Homo sapiens: one gene and its partner. The protein of the gene in region 2 interacts with the protein of the main gene of each other region in a pairwise test. Each region holds a gene or a part of one and is shown on either strand. Other genes may lie near its edges.

What was found.
Region 1: the proteins of SAMD3 (region 2) and ATXN1 interact in binary tests that used the Homo sapiens proteins (3 or more experiments, as listed by UniProt).

The regions. Positions count from the first base shown.
Region 1 is NC_000006.12:16,324,431-16,331,462, forward strand, and holds part of ATXN1 (ataxin-1), read right to left. Parts: intron 4,041-7,032; 5' UTR 4,002-4,040; coding exon of another isoform or gene 3,912-4,001; 5' UTR 3,881-3,911; coding exon 1,964-3,880; intron 1-1,963. Other genes in the region: uncharacterized LOC127903862, read right to left, coding at 3,912-4,001. UniProt on the Homo sapiens protein: Chromatin-binding factor that repress Notch signaling in the absence of Notch intracellular domain by acting as a CBF1 corepressor. Binds to the HEY promoter and might assist, along with NCOR2, RBPJ-mediated repression. Binds RNA in vitro.
Region 2 is NC_000006.12:130,177,928-130,184,959, forward strand, and holds part of SAMD3 (sterile alpha motif domain-containing protein 3), read right to left. Parts: intron 6,697-7,032; coding exon 6,511-6,696; intron 6,261-6,510; coding exon 6,176-6,260; intron 4,415-6,175; coding exon of another isoform or gene 4,379-4,414; exon of another isoform or gene 4,145-4,378; intron 1-4,144.

The DNA of each region.
Region 1 (7,032 bases), about 110 Mb from region 2:
ACAAGAAACACTGTCTCAAAAATGAAAAAAAAAAATGCCCAAAACAATTCAAACCATTAATTAGTTTATCTTTTTTTTCTTGTTTTATTTTATCTGAATGTCCCAAATAGCAGCTATTTCATGACTATTTTCAACTCAAGCTGGAAGGAGGCTCTGTCCCATTTGAATGTTTTCAAATCCTAGATGGAAACACTTGTAGAAAGTACGCTCGATAGCCAGGAAAGCTCTCAGCTGCAGGCTGAACCTGCTGGACTCCCAGCAACTTGGGCAGTGAAAGAAATGGGCTGTGGAATAAATGCATGTAATCGATCTAAGAACCTGGAAAAGGGTAGATTGAAGGAGCCTGTGGAAATTAAGAGCGTTAACCATACTTCCAGTGACTCATCTTGGCTACAGCTGACTTTACCCCAAGCCCAGCAGGTCACCTGGGACAGCCCTGACTTCTCAGATTGTATTAACCACGCTTTTATTTTCTGATGCTTTGATATTTTAGTGTCTTGTGGATCCCAGAGGTATAGTCTCTCCTAGGATTAGCTAATTCCTAGAGGCCTGACTTTTATATGCAAACCAACCAGTCCAGAGCTAATTCCTAGGAGCCTGACTTTCATATGCAAACTAACCAGTCCAGAGCCCACTCCCCAGCAGCCTCCTATATTGGTCCATCACACTTAGGGCTGCCTTCCATCTGTTTTTTTTTTTTTGTCTGAGACAGAGTCTTGCTGTGTGTCCAAGGCTGGAGTGCAGTGGCCTGATCTCGGCTCACTGCAATCCCCACCTCCCGGGTTCATGCAATTCTCCTACCTCAGCCTCTGGAGTAGCTGGGATTACAGGCACACACCACCATGCCCGGCTAATTTTTGTATTTTTAGTAGAGACAGGGTTTCACCATGTTGGCCAGGCCGGTCTCGAACTCCTGACCTCTGGTGATCCACCCGCCTCAGCCTCCCAAAGTGCTGGGATTACAGGTGTGAGCCACTGTGCCCAGCCCTTCCACCTGTATTGATCACCCCAGCACCAGCAGCCAGACAACTAAGGACAGCCCCTACACCCCAGAGCACACTGGAATTATCCACTCTAACCAATCCTAAACCCGTTTACCCTGCCTCCCATGAAACCACAATAAAGGCTGTTGTTTGCCACATTTCCCCTCACTCCCTCCACCTCCTGACCCACCTGGGGCTTCCCCAGGTGCCCCCCACTTTACGGTGTTCTACACCTCTTGGTGTAGAGTGCCCTTTCCTCTTGGGATCAGAGAGTATAAAAATTATCTCGTCAAAGAGAGTTGTCTGCTGATCTATCTGTTGGCCTTATCATACCTAAATAATAAGACATTATATATATGTTGGAGACCGGGCCTTGCTATGTTGCCCAGGCTTGAGTGCAGTGATAGTCACAGGTTCAGCCATAGCTCACTACAGCCTCGAACTCCTGGGCTCAAGTGATCCTCCTGCCTCAGTCTCTGGAGTAGCTGGGACCGAAGGCATATACCACTGTACCCAGCTAATAAGACATATTTTAAAACATGGATGTTGCAATGGGATATGATTGCTTTAGCATCTAATCCCCTCACTCCAACGGCATCCTCTGTCTTTTCCTGGTAAGAAAAAGTGCCGAATGACCACTAGAAGGACCTGAAGTCCAGCAGCGTTTCCTAATCAGGGTTCCTCATCTTAATCACAGAATTCAAAAAATAACTAGAGTGGTGAGTTTCTGGATTGTCTCAAGGACTCCATAACTAGCCCCACTCTCCATGCATGGAGGTTAATTCATTACACACAGCAGAGATCACGGGGAAATGGGGCTTATTTTTTCTAGAGAACGCAGTTGGGAAAGGCCGAGTCTAAGGTCTAGGTGTACCCGAGAACCCTTAATCCTGCCTCATAGAAGCAATTCGTCTTGCCAGGAGATGATGATGGCATCACGGTGTGGTGTCCCATCCCTGTGCCACCCTGGCTAACGTTACCTGGGCTCGGTGCTCCCCGACGGCGAACTGTATCACGGCCACGCCCGGGCTATGGCTGTCTTCAATCCTCTCTACGGTGCTGGAGTCGATCTTCAGGTCGTTGCTTATCTCTGCACTCTGGATGAAATCTTCTGTTTTTAAGTCTTCCACCTTCTTTAGCTCCCCGTTGGCCAACTGGATGATGGAGCCTTTCATGAAGTAGGGAGGCAGCGTAGGGGGAGCCGCCGCCGGGGAGGCCACGGACTGCACCACAGGCAGGTGGATCTGGGCCTGCACCATGGCTGGGTAGGCGGCCTGGGTGACCAGGGCCTCAGGGTTGAAGTTCTCGCTCTTGGGAAGGGCGGTGGTGACGAACGTGTGAGGCACTGCAGCAAACTGGGGGGATGACGTGACTATGGCCGGGGCTGCCCCCGACGCTTCCATGTCAGTGCTGCCGACCGGGATGAGCAGGGGCTGTGTGCCGGGGATCACCAGGTGCTGGGGCAGGCTGCCGGCGTAGGTGATTGCTTGCTGCTGGCCGCTCAGGTAGCCGATGACAGGGGGTTGAGTCCCTGCGTAGAAGGCCGTGGCTGGCAGTCCCACCGGGAGTGGCTCTGAAGCACTGTGTGTGGTCTGAATGACCGTGTGGGGTGAGAGCGCGTAGGACCGGTGGCCAGGCTTCCCTAAATGCAGGCCACTTTTGTCGTTGAGGGTAGAAGGGGAGGCTTCACGATGAGTGGCCTGTTGCACCTCCAGGTCAGCTGCGGGCGTGTTGCTGTTGGGCAGGACCATCACAGAGGCCCGGACCCCCGAAGGATCACGACTGCTGTAGTCTGAGGGGCTCGGGTGGACCACCACGTGCCTGGACTCGTACGGGTGAGGAACCGACTTGCCGCCTGCCTTGCCCAGGCCCAGGTCGGCTGAGGACGGGGCCCCGTACCGCCGGCTCTTCTCCATCTCACCGTTCAGGACCTCCTTGGCCTGGATGGCCTGCTGCAGCCGGCTGCTCTCAGCTTTCTTGGTGGCCTCCCGAGGGACAAAGTGGCTGCCGGAGTCGGCGTATTGCATGACGACCTGGGAGGGGGGCCCCAGGGTGAGCGTGTGTGGGATCATCGTCTGGTGGGGGTGGAGGTGGACGGGGATGGCCGGAGGAGAGGCGGTGCGGCCGGTGTTCTGCGGAGAACTGGAAATGTGGACGTACTGGTTCTGCTGGGCTGGTGGGGGGGACCCCGGGGTGATGAGCCCCGGAGCCCTGCTGAGGTGCTGCTGCTGCTGCTGCTGCTGCTGCTGCTGCTGCTGCTGCTGATGCTGATGCTGCTGCTGCTGCTGCTGCTGCTGCTGCTGCTGCTGCTCAGCCTTGTGTCCCGGCGTCTGGCTCAGACTGCCCATGTTGGCCAGCAGAGTGGAATAGGCCTCCAGCTGGGAGCGCTGGGATGGAGTGGTGGCCCCTGCGGCCGAGGCCACTGCACTGGTGACGGGGTTGGCGGTTGGGGGGATCAGCTGTGATGGGATGAAGCTGGCATAGGTTCCACTGTATTGGGAGGACCCAATGAACTGGAAGGTGTGCGGCAGGTGAGCGTACTGCACGGGGGACACCGGGGTCCCTGGCTGCGGGGTGGCGTACGCGGCAGGCAGCGTGGTGGCCACGGGGACAGACCTGGGAGCGCTGGGCGGGGAGTAGTCCAGCCCTGTGGACAATGCTTTGTGTAAACCTATTCCCTGTTGTAAACCAAGCTCCACCGAGGTCCCTGCCGGCCCATGCCTCCCGCCCCCGTGGCCCCGGCCACCAGGGTTGCCCGGGAGCCATGCTGTGCCCTCCACCCGGTGGTTGTCGCTGGGCAGGGTAGGGGCCTTCTCCTCGGAGGACCGGCTGGTGGCGGGGATCTCGCGCTTCTTGGGAGGCAGGCATTCGTTGCTCCGCTCTTGGTTGGATTTCATTTTTCGCCGTCCCCCCTCCACGGTGACTGTTTCACTGTCTGGATGGCTCTGATTTTAGTCTGATAAACGGAAAGTCACATTTGATTTCTGTAGGGGATCCAGGCTCTTCATGAGGAATCATCTCCCCGTGGGTACAATCCGCCAACAGCAGCTCTGGATGCTGGGAAAGGGAAGAGGGCAGTGACAAAGGGAAAAGGAAAGGGAGGAGAAAGGGAAGGAGGGAAAGGACATCAGAACATGAGCACCGGGGAAAGAACATCTTTGGCAAGATTAAGACTAGGCCCTGGACTCGGTGTGAACTCCCATAACCCAATCATACCCCAAGCACTGAAGCAGAGAAAACACTAGCCAACACTTTGGGAGGCCGAGGCAGGCAGATCACGAGGTCAGGAGATTAAGACCATCCTGGCTAACATGGTGAAACCCCGTCTCTACCAAAAATAAAAAATAAAAAACAAATTTAGCCTGGTGTAACATTAGCTGGCACACGGCTGTAGTCCCAGCTACTTGAGAGGCTGAGGCAGGAGAATTGCTTGAACCCAGGAGGCAGAGGTTGCAGTGAGCCGAGATTGCACCATTGTACTCCAGCCTGGGCAACAGAGCGACACTCTGTCTCCAAAAACGAAACAAAACAACAACAACAAAAACAAAAACACTAGCCGTGGCAGCTGCACATTATAAAGGAAGATTATGAAGACACTGGGCAAGTGAACACTGTAACACATATATTTTTTAATGGAGTTAACAACTCCCCTAAGATGTTCTCAATACCCTCTCTCCTGTTTTTTTTTCTCCTTTTCTTCTTCAAGGGCAGATGATGCAGTTCTTAAATTTCCTTTTCAGAAATGTTGGTTCCATTTCTCACCTCTCCTTTGCCTGGCTGGAACATAAAATGAAGCCCTTGGAGAGCATGACACCAGCTGGACCCTGCCCTCAGAGCCAGGCACTGAGAAAAAGCAGGTTAGCAGTGAAAGTCCAGAACAGTCCTTGCACTCGATTTCTGAATCCTCATCTGCCAGAGCCACTACTCTCCAAGATTCCCCTTAGCTCTGGGTCCACACTGGACCTACGATTTCCTCTCCCTAATACACACACACACAAACACACACACACACGCCAACTCAGCAGAGGCCGCCAGAAATAATCCTGTTCTCTGCAAGTTTCAAAAGAATTCCCAGTACAGCCACTCATATGATGACGGAGTGAGACTGTTAAAAACCGAATTTGATTATGGTTAAAAAACCCAAATACCATACAAAAATAGGGCTAGTGCACTGAATGTTTTCTCAGTGGGTTACATGCTTGGTTTGTCCATCTCTCTCTTCCTTTTCAAGTTGTCATTGAAGTTCCCCTTCACACCGTCCCCTTTCTCATTGGAAAGTAACAACTCGCCATTAACACTAGAGACGACAGCTCTTTCAGACAAATCAGATCAGTGTGTTCAAACCTGGACATACAAATGGTGACCCTGGAGCCAGTTCTTATGGTCAAGTATCTCAGTCTCTTACTAACCACTGAAGTCTGAGTTACTGCTGCTGTGTGGGCAAACCAATGCCCAACAGACAAGAGGCCAAATATCAGTGGAACTGACATGACCCAGGCTAGCAAGCAGCGGATGTGATTGCTTCCACAGGTAGCAGCTGTAGGTATGCACAGTGCAACATGCTGTGATTCTGAGAGCTGTGGGATTGGGCTTTGGGAATTCCACACCCTTGGGTTTTGGTATCTCACATCCAGACCCTCTTTTCAATGATCTGATTTTCTTTCTTTCTTTCTTTCTTTCTTTGGAGAGATGGGGTCTTGCTATGTTAACCAGGCTGGTCTTGAAATCCTGGCCTCAAGAAATCCTCCTTCCTTGGCCTCCCAAAGTGCTAGGATTCCAGGCATGAGCCACTGTGTGTAGCCAATGATCCGATTTTAAAACAAACACAATAAAGTAGCGGCCTTCAGCATTCAATCCTTGTCCATGTTGGAGCAACACTGAAATCCCTACTGAAACATAACCCCCTTTCTCTACTCTGCCCCCTACTTTGTAACTATTTTTTAGAGGGGGCAATGATTTTTTTCCTTCCTTCCTTCCTTTTTTTTTTTTTTTTTTTGAAAAGGTCTTGCTTCGTTGCTCAGACTGAAGTGCAGTGGCGTGATCTCGGCTTGCTGCAACCTGTGCCTCCTGGGCTCAAGTGATCCTCCCACCTCAGCCTCCCAGGTAGCTGGGACTACAGGTGCACGCCACCACACCCGGCTAATTTTTGTACTTTTTGTAGAGGTGGGGTTTTGCCATGTTGGCCAGGCTGGTCTTGAACAGGCCTCAGTGATCCACCCACTTGGCCTCCCGGTGCTGGGATTACAGGCATGAGCCACTGCAGCCAGCTTGGAAGGGGCAATGATTTAATGGCCCTTATTGGTTTTGCTCCAACATCATCAATGAACATCATAATGAAATGACAAATGATACAACAGAAAGTTCTCAATCCTTAATGATTTTGATCAGATATCTAGGAAGGTGCAGGTTTAGAAATTTGGTGTCTCGATATCAAAGGACATTTCAGTAAGAATAGAATTTCTCATATGACAAGAGAGGCGCTTAAAGACTGGGACGGAAATGAAAAATAAGGTTAAAAAAACCCTAAAACACTTATGCTGAAGAAATGAAGTGTTGAAGGAGTAATGTCACTTATTTACTCTCGCAACCCAGGTGTTTTTTTTTTGAGATGGAGTCTCACTCTGTCGCCCAGGCTGGAGGGCAATGTGCCAATCTCGGCTCACTGCAACCTCCGCCTCCCGGGTTCAAGCGATTCTCCTGCCTCAGCCTCCTGAGTAGCTGGGATTATAGGCGGCTGCCGCCATGCCTGGCTAATTTTTGTATTTTTAGTAGAGGCGGAGTTTCACCATGTTGGCCAGGCTGGTCTCGAACTCCTGACCTCAAATGATCCACCAGCCTCTACCTCCCAAAGTGCTGGGATTACAGGCGTGAGCCACTGCGCCCTGCCCACCTAGGGTTTTTGTAAGTGACAAATAACTGTGTTCTGTACAGCCTTCCCTTGTAAAAAGAAGTTCTAATAATGAACTTTTATCTTTAAATTTCAAGACTCACTCTTAAGAAAGGGAATGCCAAACGCTCCCACATTTCCATACCAACGAGCAAGGAAAAC
Region 2 (7,032 bases):
TGGCAGTGCTTAGCTGGTAACTAACTCACTGCATGAGTGGTGGCTCAACCCTTCTTTTTTTTTTTAGACGGAGTTTCACTCTTGTTGCTCAGGCTGGAGTGCAATGGCGCAATCTTGGCTCACTGCAATCTCCACCTCCTGGGCTCAAGCGATTCTCCTGCCTCAGCCTCCTGAGTAGCTGGGATTACAGACATGTGCCACCACAGCCAGCTAATTTTTTGTATTTTTAGTAGAGACGAGGTTTCTCCATGTTAGTCAGGCTGGACTCAAACTCCCAACCTCAGGTAATCTGCGCACCTCGGCATCCCAAAGTGCTGGGATTACAGGCGTGAGCCACCACGCGCCCGGCTGGCCCAACCCTTCTTGAAGACAGTGCCTTAGGGCTGCTTCTGCTGCTCTTCTCCGCTGCAATGCCGTGTGATTGAATAGATCCCCACAGTGAGTGCGGGGAAGGGAAAAAAAAAAAAACCCCTGCAGGCATATGGGCCTGTGTTTCCCTCGAGCCCTGGCCAAGAGAGAAAGTGGTAAGTCGCCAAATGGCTTTGGGCATGTTTTCTAAGCTCTATTTCCTCATGGGCCAATGGGAATGACACCAAAATAACATTAGCCAAATGCTTGGCACTTAGATTTTGCCATTCCTGGTTATATGGTTTGTAAGTCCCAATGAGAGTAATCCCTGAAAGCACCATAGCCTAAGTTGGGAAGACTGCAGGTCCAAGTACTAGTGTGAATACATATCAGCCAAGTAACCCCTCTTAATTTTAGTTTCTTCAACTATAAAACGGAACAATAAGATCTGTCCTATCAACTGCACTAGCCTTTTGGGAGAGTGAGTAGCTACTCATAGAAGATATTTGTAAACTAAAGTGCTGTTTGTAAAGTCCTTCAACAGCCCTAGTAAGAAAGGCAGTGGTTGAGGGTTGGAGTATGGCTTCAGCACTGATTAAGCTCCCAGGTATGCATGAGTCAGAGGTGCCTTATCACCTCCCATAGGCTTGCTTGTGAGCCTGGACTTTACCATTGCTGTTTTACCACAGAACAGACAAAAAGAATGGCTTGTATTTTTCTTAGCCATGAAATATGAACTAAAGCAAGTATAGTACATTTTTTTTCCATATGTTTCCTGTAGCTCTGAAGGGTTTCTAAATGTGCTGAACCTGGTGGGAGGTATTATAGCAATCAACGGCTAGGACATTTTTAAATTGCCAATTTCTTCTTTCTAGCCTCTCCCATCTCTCCTTATTAACTGTCTGATAGGAACAGAAAAAGGACAAATCAAATACAATCTTCCACATGAGTATTCAATCAATGAATATTTACTGAGAATCTGCTATATGCCTGACACCATGAGTTACTTACGCAGACGCCTCAGGTAGGCAGACTCAGTAGGAAATATTTATGTTATAGAATAATCATCCCTCTCCTCCATGTTTCCAGCTAGAGAGGGTGTAGAAAGTTCTACATGAAGACAGCTCTCCGTCAACCACTCTGAAATAAAAAATGGCCCTGAAATTGCAGACCTCCTGTTGTGACATATGAAGCAGTCCACAGCATCACGAGCAGATCTTTGCACATTCAAATGCAGAATGTGGACCGTCTTACATGGCAACTGGACTAGACTTGTCCAAAAAGCAAATATCCAGAAAAATAAAAAAGGGTATGGAGAGACTGTCTAGGCAAAAAAAAAAAAAAAATTAAAGAGACATAATAACGAATGCAATGCATAATACTCAATTAGATATTATAGCAAAAAACTATCTTTAAAACATTTTTGAAAAATTGGAGAAATGTGAATATGGATTGTATATGATATTATGCACTTATTGCTAATTTTCTTGGGTATAAGAATGGTATTGTGGTTATATAAGAGATTGTCCTTATTCTTTTTTTTTTTTTTTTTTTGGAGATGAAGTCTCGCTCTTGTCCCCCAGGCTAGAGTACGACGACACTGATCTTGGCTCACTGCAACCTCTGCCTCCTGGGTTCAAGCGATTCTCCTGCCTCAGCCTCCCGTGTAGCTGGGAATACAGTTACCTGCCACCATGCCCAGCTAATTTTTGTGTTTTTAGTAGAAACGGGGTTTCACCATGTTGGCCAGGATGGTCTTGAACTCCTGACCTCAGGTGATCCACCCGCCTCAGCCTCCCAAAGTGCTAGGATTACAGGCGTGAACCACCGTACACGACCTTTTTTTTTATTATTATTATTTTTGAGACAGGGTTTTGCTCTGTCATCCAGGCCGGAGTGCAGTAGTGCAATCATAGCTCACTGCTGTCTCAACCTCCTGGGCTCTAGTGGTCCTCCCACCTCAGCCTCCCAAGTAGCTGAGACTACAGGCTCATGCCACCATACCTGGCTAATTTTTTTTTTTTTTTTTTTTTTTTTTTTGTAGGGATGGGGTTTTACCATGTTGCCCAGGCTGGTCTTGAACTCCTGGGATCAAGTGATCCGTCCGCCTTGGCCTCCCAAAATGCTGAGATTATAGGCGTGAACCACCACTCCCAGCTGTTCTTATATATGTTATGGTGTTTAGGGATGACATCTGCAACTTGCTTTTAAATGCTCAACCAAAACAAACAAACAAGCAAACAAATATGACAGAAGAAAAATAAATGTGGCAAAAAAATCCCTAATCTAGATCAGTAACTCTCAGCCAGTGACGTGATGTTGCTCCTCTCCCTCCCCTTGTTTGGTTTTGTTGTTGTTGTTGCTTTGTTTTGTTTTTTAAGAGAAATTTTGCTTTATTCTGTAGTGTGCTTACTTTAGTGATGTTTGGGGACATGTCTGGTTGTTACAACTGGGTGGACAGAGTGCTACTCACACCTAGTGGGTGCCAGGGATGCTACTAAATATACTTCAATGTACTAGACAGTCCCCAGCAGAAAGAATTATCCAGCCCCAAAGGTAAACAGTCAAGAGGTTGAGAAAATCCATGTTGTTAGGAGTATATGCATATCAATGTAGCATTCTTTCAACTTTTGTTCAGATTTGAAACTTTTCTTTTCTTTTTTCTTTTTCTTTCTTTCTTTTTTCTTTTGAGACGGAGTTCCGCTCTTGTTACCTGGGCTGGAGTGCAATGGCGTGATCTCAGCTCACTGCAACCTCGGCCTCCCGGTTCAAGCGATTCTCCTGCCTCAGCCTCCTGAGTAGCTGGGATTAAAGGTGCCCACCACCATGCCCGGCTAATTTTTGTATTTTTAGTAGAGAGAGAGTTTCACCATGTTGGCCAGGCTGGTCTCAAACTCCTGACCTCAGGTGATCTGCCCGCCTTGGCCTCCCAAAGTGCTGGGATTATAGGCATGAGCCACCGTACCCGGCCCCAAATTTTTCAAAATTAAGAGTTAAAAATAAACTTAGCCCTAAAAATAACCAAGTTTGTGCACCCTTTTTCTTTCTCCACCCCTGCCTCCCATTAATGTTCTCTGAAATTTTGTACATTTTCCACTGTAACATTAGAAACACAACCTCACACACACTCGCAGGGAGAATTTGGGTAAACATCCATCCAGGCACCAGAGTTTCTCCTTCTACTCTATGAGTGCAAATCTGAGCCCTAATCTGCTAAGCAATTTTGCACACATCTCTTTATCAGTTAACGGTCCTTAGTGAATGTCACTGGGAACAGATGTGGATAAAATGGACACAAGAGCAAAGAAAGCATTATTTGTTACTTTGTACATGTCTCACTTTGATAACCATCAAACTAAAGGTCAAAAGGTATTGAATCAATATGGATTTGCTTAGGTATATGCAAAGATTCTCTAGAGGGACTCTAATAGTATTGGTTACTTATGGGGAGGAAAATTAGGTGGCTGCAGAAGCAAGGGCGGGTGGGAAACTTTTCTATTTATACCCTTTTGTAGTTTTTGAATTTTGAGCTATGTAAATATGTAATTTATTCAAACAGTAAATGTAAATTTAAAAAAAAAACACAAGTTCTATCCTGGCTAACATGGTGAAAATCCATGTCTACTAAAAATACAACAAATTACCTGGGCGTGGTGGGGGGCACCTGTAGTCCCAGCTACTCGGGAGGCTGAGGCAGGAGAATGGCGTGAACCCATGAGGCGGAGCTTGCAGTGAGTCGAGATCGTGCCACTGCACTCCAGCCTGGGCGACAGAGCAAGACTCTGTCTCAAAAAAAAAAAAAAAAAAAAAAACCACAAGTTCTATACACAGTAACACTGATTAGACATTAAGTTGGTAGATGTATCTCCAGTGTAGAAGAAATTCCGAGAATCAGTTTTGTCAGCCATATTGACATGATTGTCAATGTTGGGATGCCAGGTTTGTGTAGTATTGTTGTTGTTGCCTTGTTTTTTTTCCTTCGCTTTGTTTTGTTTTTTTAGAGGAAATTCAGTTTCTTCTGTAGTGCACTTTATATGCAGCAGCATATTTTGGAAAGGATGTCATCCTAGAAGCAAGAATACCTGAATTCTAATCTTGGCTTCAATAACTATCATTTTTCCAGACATGGTATACAACATCTTTCCTCAGTCTGAGTGGTGAAAAAAACCTTTAATTACCTCTCCCACTGAGAAAATTCTGTGATTCTCTCCATATATAATGAACCTTTTCTTGAAAATACAAAAAAAGAAGGAAGAAAGGAAGGAAGGAAAGAAGGAAGGAAGGGAGGGAGAGAGGGAGGGAGGGGTAAATACAAATAAGGAAGGAAGAAAGGAAGGAGGGAAGAAAGAAGGAGGGAGGGGAGGGAGGAAGGAAGGAAGGAAGGAAAGAAGGATGGAAGGAAAGGAGGAAGGGAGGGAGGAAACAGAGCCTTAAAATGTCTTTATATTCATAGATAATTGGCATTTATCCTTTGTTGTTCTTGGAAATAATTGCTGAAATTCCATGTCCTTAAGAAAGCACAGCAAAAAATATCTTTTCACAGACATCTGAGACAGTAAAGCACAAAAAGACATCTATCTTCTTTAGATATGCCTACCAATGTGTATGCATATGGCATATAGAGATACAGGGAATAATAGACCATCTACCTTTTTGTATACATAGCTACAGTTCCTTGTAATTGTTCCTTAACTCATAAAGTTACAGCATCATAAACACTCAGTTTTTTATTAACTATTCTTAGGTACAGTTCAATAGTGTTGATTATATTCACATTGTTGTGCAATGAAGACAGTGGTCTTTGAAATCCAGGAGACAGGCAGGTTCAAACAGCAAACTTTGTGTTGAAACGTCAGCGGCAGTGGTTCTCAGCCGTGGTTGTACATTAGAATAATCCCATCCTCAAATTAATTCAATCTGAATCTCTAGGAATCCTAATGTGCAACCAGAGCTTAGAACTGCTGCCCCAGAGAATTGCTTGAACCCAGGAGGCGGAGGTTGCAGTGAGCTGAGATCGCGCCACTATACTCCAGCCTGAGTGAGAGAGCGAGACTCCGTCTCAAAAAAAAAAAAAGGAAAAAAAAAAAAAAGAACTGCTGCCCCAGAGCATCCTGAGGGTCTGTTTTTATCAGGACAGAAAGCAGAGATCTGACAGGGCCAGGTAAGGCTGGAGGCCCAGACCTCAAAGCCAGACAACAGCTCCACTGGGTCTGAGAAGGCAAGAAACACTTGATGACAGCTCCGAAGCAGGTGCAGCCATGTCTTTCTCTTTCTATGTGTCACATCTCCTAAAGACCCTTCCTAACCCTTAAAACCCTTAAGACTCTAAAGCGAACAGCTCAATTTTAGCAACTTTATATGCTTGTGCAACCATAATCACTATCCATTTTGGCCACCCTCAGCCCTAGGCAACTCCTGATCAGCTCTGTTGCACTGAGCTTCCAGTTTTGACAGGACAGCAACATGATGACAGAGAGAGACAAAGAAGACAAAGAAACACAGGGCAGAGAGAGACCAAGAAGTTATGAAAAAGGGAAGACAAGGAGACAGAGAGAGAAAGAGAGAGAGCCAGAGAGAGAGAGAGCGCAAAGTCAAGAAAGAAGCATGGACTAACAGAAAGTGAAAGACAGAAACAAAGTTGGAGAGAGATTAAAGAGACAAAGAGTCAGAAAAACAGAAACAGATAGACCTAGATACATAGACAGAATGAGAGAGAGAGAGAGAGACACCAAGAAAAGATGGGTGAAGCATAAAATTACTGGGCAACACAAGGCAATTATTTTAAGATAGTCTGAAATTAACAGGATGGTGCCATGTGGTCACTTACGAAGCCACAGCCATCCTCATCCAGGAAAGGGTGGGCCTGCAGCAGGGCATTAACCACGTCATTGTACTGCTGGGTGCTGGGGTACCTGTTCACCAAAACAAGGAGGATATGTTTCACTTCAAGCAAACCACATTCCTTCCTTTAAGATGAGTCTAATTACACTCATTTTTCTTCACATTTTTCTATATAACAAAAAGAGATTTAAATATTGGGCAATTGGGACCTATTACCAATATATCATCCACAATCTGAAGAGAGTTGATTCCACAGGAATTCTACTCTATTCTGAAACAGACCCTTTCCCAAAGCAGCAAGCTTGTCCTGTTGTCACTCACAGTGAGCCTTCCAGATACTTAGTCATGTCGGCCTGGAGAAACTCAATGATCCTTATCCTCATGCTGTGATCCGGGCACTTCTGCTCTGCTAACATGCATTTGACATCATAGGGAAACTCTGGTAAAACATAGGACTTCGTCCACTGTAATGCTTTGCTTCTTGCTAGAATTTGTTTCACATTTCTTCTGTGAAATAAAAACACACAAAGAATGAAATTCTATTCCAAATATATGCAGTTTATTAATTTGCTACATCCTGAGAACTTATGAAATAAACAACTTTCCTGAGACCCAAATATATGGAAGTCATCAAGCCATCTTCCATCCATTCATCCATCCACAAATGTTTGAAGGCTCATTAAGTGTCTTTGTCCATTCACACAACACATAAATATGTATTCTTTAGAAAAAGTCATAATAATATAGACTTTAGAATAAAGCCTGAAGTTGAAATGCATACTAATTCATTTTTCTTAAAGAGAAAATGTAATGCATAGCTCAAAACTAGACAATATACTTAAC